2 linked regions of the Homo sapiens genome follow. The protein of the gene in region 1 binds, or shares a complex with, the protein of each later gene. Each region holds a gene or a part of one and is shown on either strand. Other genes may lie near its edges.

Region 1 (3,815 bases):
GCCTGGACAAGGGGAGAAGGGGAGGCTACCCCCACCCCAAGGCCTTTGGGGATACACACACAGTCACTGGTTCCTACAACCACCACACGGAGACTCTGCCACCCCACAGAGGCCTCTAGATGGTTCTTGCCCTCAAGGAGCTGGGGGCCAGGAGACAGAGATAACCCCTACACCTCCAAAGCCTGACCGGAAGGCCGCAGTGAAGGTGAACAGAGCGCCCAGGGCACGAGGTGGGGGCAGGGTGAACTGGCAGGAGCCCCAGGCGGGGCTGGAGGGGAGTGTAGACCAAGAACCCACGGGGTCACCCATGGGGCTTGAAGGGGGACAGAGCTGTGAGGCCAGCCGGCTGGGGAAGGACAGTGTGCGGCTGTCTGGACAGAAGCAGGGGCAGACGGTGCATCTGAGACTGCGTGAAGGGTGGCGTGCCCGTGGACGCCCTGGAAGCAACTGGAAGGCGGGGGTCCGGGGGAGGCTGCGGCTGGGGCTTGGAGTCACGTGGACGCAGACGGCAGCTGAATCCCTACAGTGGCGCTGGGACGCCAGCATGGGAGTGGGAGAAGGGTGGCACCCAGGATTGTGGAGGAGGAGCAGGATGGTGCTGTGACCATGGGAACAGCCGCCCAACTCCCACTGGCCCTTCCTGCCGCAGCCGGCCCGGCACCCCGCAGCCCCGCCCAGCCCGGCACACAGGAGCCCCAGGCGGCAGCGCACTCACTTGCGGTCACTCTCGGGTGGCCAGTTGTCCCACTTGTAGTAGGTCTCCGGCTGCTCTGTGAACAGCACCTTGTGCAGGCTGGGCAGGCAGAGAAGAGCCCTCAGTCATGATGTGGGTGCTCAGGGACCAGCCCCGTTAGTTCCAGGGAAGGGACCCCGCTCCCACGGGCCCCAGCGCTCAGAGGCCGGGCTGCCTGGTGCCCAAGCTCAGCACCTCCTCACAGCACCACCAAAGAACCCAGGGACCACTCACGGGGCTGCCAGGCTGCACAGCGGCCGAACGGGGCTGCCGGGCTGGACAGCCCTTTACAAAATCGCTGCAGAGAAATGCAGCCCCAGCCTGGCAGCCCCACCCCAACCAAGGCAGAGGCTCCACGGGAGGCTCCAATGCACAGGGTGACCTGCCTGGAGCCTAACGGCTGCTGCTGTCCGCAGAGAGGGGACAGACTCCCGTGTGGGGGCCTGGCTTGTCCCGGCTTAGTGGGGTGTGGGGCAGGGGCTGTGCGGGGCCTGGCTTGTCCTGGCTCAGTGGGGTTTGGGGCAGGGGTTGTGCGGGGCCCCGGCTTGTCCCGGCTCAGTGGGGTGTGGGACAGGGGCTGTACAGGGCCCCAGCCGCACCAGTGCACGTAGTCCTTAGGGGCGAGCTTGCTGATGGAGGGGACCACAGTGTGGAGCCACCAGACGGCATCCCGCTGGATGGCGGCAATCTGGTTCTGGAATGAGCGGAGCACTTCCAGGTCTGAAACAGACACGCAGCTTAGTGGCCCATCCGAGCCATGGGCCATGAGGGGCTAAGGCACCCCTGGGGGTCCAACTCAATGCTGGCACTTGGGAGGGGGTAACTCAGGGCACCCCCAGCTTCTGGACGATTCCCAGCTGGAATAACACCCTGGGAGGCATGGAGTGACCCTGACGCGTGCGTGGGTGACTGGAATCCTCCTGTTCCGAGTGACTCGCTCCGGTCAATGGCTTAGAGGGCTTCTGCGGCCCAGCCTTCCTGTGAACCCATAATCAAACACCCGGACTGCCCCAAACACCACCTCCCCTCCCCACTCCCGCCCGTGGCTGGGGCCACCACGCCTGCAATGCCCCCATGCTGGGCCAGAACTGGAGCACACAAAGGACGCTCATGGGAACAGGGTCTGAGCCTGCAGCTGGGGTGAGGCCCGGATGGACAGGAACGGGGACGGCAGCTTCCAGGCTCCGTGTCCCCGAGTAGCCGTGCTGCGGGACCGCTCCTGCCGGGCGCTCAGGGGACAGTGCAGCCTCGGAGAGCCGCCAGCCACCAGCCTGGACCCGAGACCCCCACCAAGCAGGGCCAGGCCACCCCCACATCCTTACTCCTCTTTTCTCCTTTGTCCCAGGCGATGCCGGCCTCCTTCACCTGCGCTGTGATGCCCAGCATCATGGACACGGCCAGGACGTCGGTGATGTGCACCACGAAGCGCTCCTGCAGGTGCAGCACGGGGTCTGTATCCAGAAGGGACACCCGGGAGCCCCACTCCACACCCACGTGGGCGCGGCACGGGGTCTGTATCCAGAAGGGACACCCGGGAGCCCCACTCCACACCCACGTGGGCGCGGCACGGGGTCTGTATCCAGAAGGGACACCCGGGAGCCCCACTCCACACCCACGTGGGCGCGGCACGGGGTCTGTATCCAGAAGGGACACCCGGGAGCCCCACTCCACAAACACGTGGGTGCAGCACGCACACACTTGCACATGCGCACACATACACACACACAAGCAGGGATCCAGAGAGAGAGCCCAGGACCAGTTGGGAGAGGGGCCTGACAGGAGGGGCACCAGGGCCGGTGGCCCACAAGGTCCTAGTCTGGCCACAGGAGGGAGGTTCAGTCAACAGAGATCCACAAAGCCCCGTCCGCAAAACAGGCCACCCCGGCAGGCTGGCTGCGAGTTGGCTGCAGGGACCTGGCATCTCTGTGATCCACCCTCACTGTGCCTTCCAGCGCCAGCTCCCTCCACAGCCCTCGAAAAGTCTCCAACCCAGCCAGGCAGCCCGCAGCCCCACCCTGCCTCCCTGCTCCCGTGCTCCCCTTGCTGCCGGCAGCAATTCATCCCATCCAGCCTAGGGGTTGCCAGTTCCCCTGTGCTTGGTCAGCCCCTCATAGGTCCTCACACAGGACAGAGCCTATGCTACCCTCTGGGACGCGTCACCGCAAACAGCCTCACTCATCCCCGTACCCACGCTCAGCCAGAGCATCCGAAGGGGTGGAGTGTGCATGGGACCCAGGACGAGGGGGATGGCGGCGCGTGGAACCCGCAGTGAGGGAAAGGCGCCCCAGCGGCGAGGGCTGGCACCTTGAACTCCATCTCCAGGTACTGCGGCTCCTTGCGCTCCTGCATGAGCCCCAGGCAGAAGGCCTGGAAGTTGATCTCGTGCTTGGTCTGCTTGATGATCTCCCGCAGCAGGGCCCGCGAGGCCCGCAGGTAGTCGTCCTTGTTGGTCAGCAGGTCCTGGAACACCATGGCCAGGAACTGGGGCAGAGAGAGGCCGCGTGGGAGGCTGCCCGACAGTGCTGTCCCTGTCACAGGCCCCTTCCCGCAGCACCAACAGGTATGGCGCCCGAGGGCGCTGCAGTGGGTCTCAGACAGTGTGGGGTGCGGGGTGGCGGGCTCCTTGCTCTACTGGCTGCCAGCCCTTGGCGAGCAGGGATCACATCTGATTCCCCTCTCTGAGAACCGGCAGGTGGGGAGTCGGTCCTCGTGAAATGAGGAGGATTAATTAACGGAAGCTGGGGGTGCGGGACACCAGGCGGCAAAGCCATAGAAGCGCGTGTGCCATCTCAGCCCACCCGTGCGCCACGGGCTGAACGGAAACCAAAGGCCACCACCCAAGATCTGAAAGGATCTGAAAGGACGCACTCCTGTCTCAAAATGCCAGGCCGCGAAGACTGAACGCGGAGCTGAGAGCGGCTGTGCCTCCCTCGTGTTTCACACTCCATAGAGCCCACCGGGAGGCCTAATGCGCTGGTGGCGATGGGAGCATCTCCCGAGCCCGCTTCAAAGGAGACACGGAAATCCAAGGGTCCTACAGCCAGGGCTACAGGGACCCCTGCTTAACCGAGGGACCCAATGC
Region 2 (3,815 bases), on another chromosome or scaffold:
CATTCTCTTCATCTGTAAAATGGTAATAGCATTTGTTTCAAAGGTGGGTTATGAGGATGAATTATGATTATGTAAGAGTTTAGCATAGTGTCTGGAAAATGTTGAGTGCTAACAAAAAGTTACTGTTTATTCATCATTATTATTTACAAAGGATAATCAAACTGAATCCAGAAAAATCCATGCATACTGAACGGGGAAAGATGCTTCCCGCCAGCCATTCCATAGTCTTTGATAATCTTCATAAGCCCATACAGTACTATACCAGGGAATTTATTAACAATTTGTCACCATTTCTGGAAGCCAGAATTTGGCCTATTTTGCTCTTGTTTGGGCCTTCTTGTGTAATCTTGGGCTACTGTTTGCCATACTATATAGTTTGGGTCCTTAAATCTCAATTCGTATCACTTTTTATACTACATACCTTCCACATCAAAGTACACCTACCTTCAACATCACTTATAAAGCAACAATTAGATCAAGAATATTAAGAATGTTCGAAGTAATTCACTGTTGATTACTTGATTACTGGTACTAGCAGGAAAGCAGAGCCATCTTATCCTTCATTGCAAAACCATGTTACGAGAATGCATCCCTCACAGTAAAACAGAAACATATGGCTCCAAAACCATGGCTTTCAATCTTAACACTGCCTTCCACCCACATCTAGCACTCCTGAGGTTAGACTCTGAGGACCCACCTAACTTGTATGTTTTAACAGATAAAGACTAATTATGATGAAGCCCCAGGAAGTACTTCTGCCTGTGAGATCATGTTTCAATCTTCTGCCTTCCCTGTTTTATCCAGCCATCTTAGAAACTGAGTAAGAAATACCCACAACCCTTTGTCCTTTACTGGTAATACTAGTTTAGGGAACTAGGATATAATTACTGATTCAGTTTTGTTCAACAAAGGTACTAAAATTTTCATTGGATGACTGCTTCAAACATTGCAAAATGTATAAAATTCTCCACTAAGGCACTAACTGCCAGAATGGCAGTACTAAAAACCCCACCTATTTCTAAATGCTGCAAAATAGGAGTGTGTTACTACCTTAGATTGAGAACCACTGCAATAAGTGATATGAGTCTCTCACCTGAAGCTGGGGAAAAACTCCACTACTGCGTAGAGAGAAAACTATAGAACTGAAGAATAACCTTGGACCCTGCCATACACGATCACAACATTCTTAACTAGGTCTTCCTACAATGATGTGTACCGCAGAACTTGCCCCAGTTTGAGGAATCTGTTTGAGGAGAAAGGGGATATCAGGTCCTATTTATAATATCTTTGAGATACCTTGGAACAATAACCAATGCACATATGAGAATCTCACTCAAAGCAATTATAGTTAGAATGACTGTATTTAGAATCCCCACTGTTCCAAAATTATCTCATTAAACCTTACATTTCCTGGATTCTGATCTTTAGGCTCACTTCAGATCATGTCTTTTGGTATTTCCCCACATTTGCTCTTGGTGTATTCTAGTCATGTTATAATATTAGCCATGACTCCCCATTTAGTACTTTGACTTCTGGACACACAGACCAGATTCACTGTTGATTTCTGGTACTAATCTGCATTTAGCCTGGCATGGTGGCTCATGCCTATAATCCCAGCACTTTGGGAGGCCGAGGCAGGAGGATCACTTGAGGTCAGGAGTTCGAGACCAGCCCTGGCAATGTAGCAAGACTCCATCTCTACAAAAAATAAAAAAAAAATTAGCTAGGCCTGGTGGCACATGCCTGTAGTCCCAGCTACTTGGGAGGCTGAGGTGGGAGGATTGCTTGAGCCTGGGAGGTCAAGGCTGCAGTGAGCCATGGTCATGCTACTGCACTCCAGCCTAGAAAACAGAGTGAGACCCTGTCTCAGAAAAAGAAAAAAATTACATTTGCTTCATTTTATTTAACTTAAGAACAACAGAATGTAGAATGTGTCCAGTCTTGAGCTCTGCTTAAGTGCTATGCCAATGAATACATGCTCTTACTGATAAATTAGATATTATTTGCAAAGCAGATAAAAGAATAAACAGTATCCCAGATGAAGAGAAGAAGCTGAGAAGCAGAAAATATGGGAACATGAAAGTTCTCCACATATTCAGGGAATGACACACTTAGTCTGTGTCAGAGTGGCCAGAGTGTATGAATGTGTATGCTGAAGCAGTGAGAGAGAGGGCTGTAAGGTAGAGTCGGGTCAAAAAGAGAAGGTCCATATATGCATCCTAATGAGTATAATCTCATTATATAAGTAATTGAGAGCCACTGGGCATATATAAGTAGGTAAATATTTTAGAAGAATTCTAATGATAGTAAGCAAAGTGGATTGATAGGAGGCAAGGAGATTTATTAAGTGGCTATTGCAATAGACAAGTAATGGATTTGTGGAACAGGGTAATAAAAGAGAAATGAATAGATTTCAGAGACATATAAGAGGTAGAATTAGCAAATCTGGTAAACAATGGGATATGGAATTAAAAGAGGCATCAAAGATGTTTTCTAATTCAGGCAATTGCAGAAAAAAAAAACTGGATAATAGAACAACTTTCACTTTTAAATATATTGACCTTAAAGTATCTATAGACTATCTAGTTAGCTATAGAAGCTCACCCAGGAAGAGGGTTAGAACCATAAACATAGATTTGACATAAATCAGAAAAAATGGAGGAGAAAAAACTTGGGGGAAGAACAGTGCTTACTTTAGATATTAAAGGAGCTAAAGTGATAATAATAATGAAACAGTTGAGTACATACTAAAGAAAGATAGATTATTGTCACAATTTGTTTCTTTTGACAATTTCCAATTCTTAGTGGTTTCTTATCAATGCTCTGGAATGCATTGCTCATCTGTAATAATTTCACTTGAGATCCTGGAGGGCTAGTTTAAATAATAAATTAAATAAAAACCAAACTGAGCAGAACAGATTGTAACTTGTCATAGAAATTTCCTGTTACAAGTAAGAAATATACACACTATTGATATACACACTTTTCATTTACTACTTTTTATTTCATAGGAATAAATAAAAACACTTCCTATTTCTGATTTAACTGATTAAAAAGTAAAATGGGTATCCCGAGTTTTTACTTTTAACTAAGTACTTCTGACCTTTAAAAGATATATTGGTTAGACAAATTTATATAGAAATTCATTTGATTAACAGACATGAGAACTCTGCAATTGAGAATCACTAATTTAAGGCAGGGGAAGAGAGATGGAAGTGGGAGGGAGAGGTGGAGAATAAGACATTATGGCAATTTCTTGTTTTCTTTAAAAGAAAAATTATGAAATTCATTTATCATTTATCTATTTTATAAGTGAATAAAAGTTAGAAAACTATCCAATATAACAAATGAAAAGATATTTCACTATGATATTAAAGGCAGGTATGTTAGTCAACAGTAAAAAGAGAAAGTACATAGGAAGAATGAGGTAATGGTCACTTGAGGACAATGAGAAGGAAAGACTAAGCAACAGAGAAATGCAGCTGGAAAGACAGATATGCACATATAAATATCGCCTCTGTACACATCTTATCCATGCGGTGGTTTAAGCTCACTCAGAAATTTTCTATATTTCCTTACCAGATCTCAACAAAGAGTGGGGCTTTGTATCTCACCACTTCTCAGTGCTGCATGGTATTTTAAAATGTTTGTCAATACATTGACAGACTAGTAAGGAATATTCATAATTTGTGTGTCACCAATCTTGTTTTATCTATATTAGAATTAGATAAAACTAAAAAGAGAAAAATGCACATAACATGGTCTGGTCTTTAGCAATAGAAATATTAATCACATGTACATACTATACATATAAA

What was found.
Region 2: INTS1 (region 1) and INTS12 share a complex: the UniProt entries of both Homo sapiens proteins name them as parts of the integrator complex.

Annotation. Positions count from the first base shown.
Region 1 is NC_000007.14:1,494,101-1,497,915, forward strand, and holds part of INTS1 (integrator complex subunit 1), read right to left. Parts: intron 3,215-3,815; coding exon 3,038-3,214; intron 2,165-3,037; coding exon 2,056-2,164; intron 1,454-2,055; coding exon 1,333-1,453; intron 794-1,332; coding exon 716-793; intron 1-715. UniProt on the Homo sapiens protein: Component of the integrator complex, a multiprotein complex that terminates RNA polymerase II (Pol II) transcription in the promoter-proximal region of genes.
Region 2 is NC_000004.12:105,688,038-105,691,852, forward strand, and holds part of INTS12 (integrator complex subunit 12), read right to left. Parts: intron 1,244-3,815; exon of another isoform or gene 1,094-1,243; intron 1-1,093. UniProt on the Homo sapiens protein: Component of the integrator complex, a multiprotein complex that terminates RNA polymerase II (Pol II) transcription in the promoter-proximal region of genes.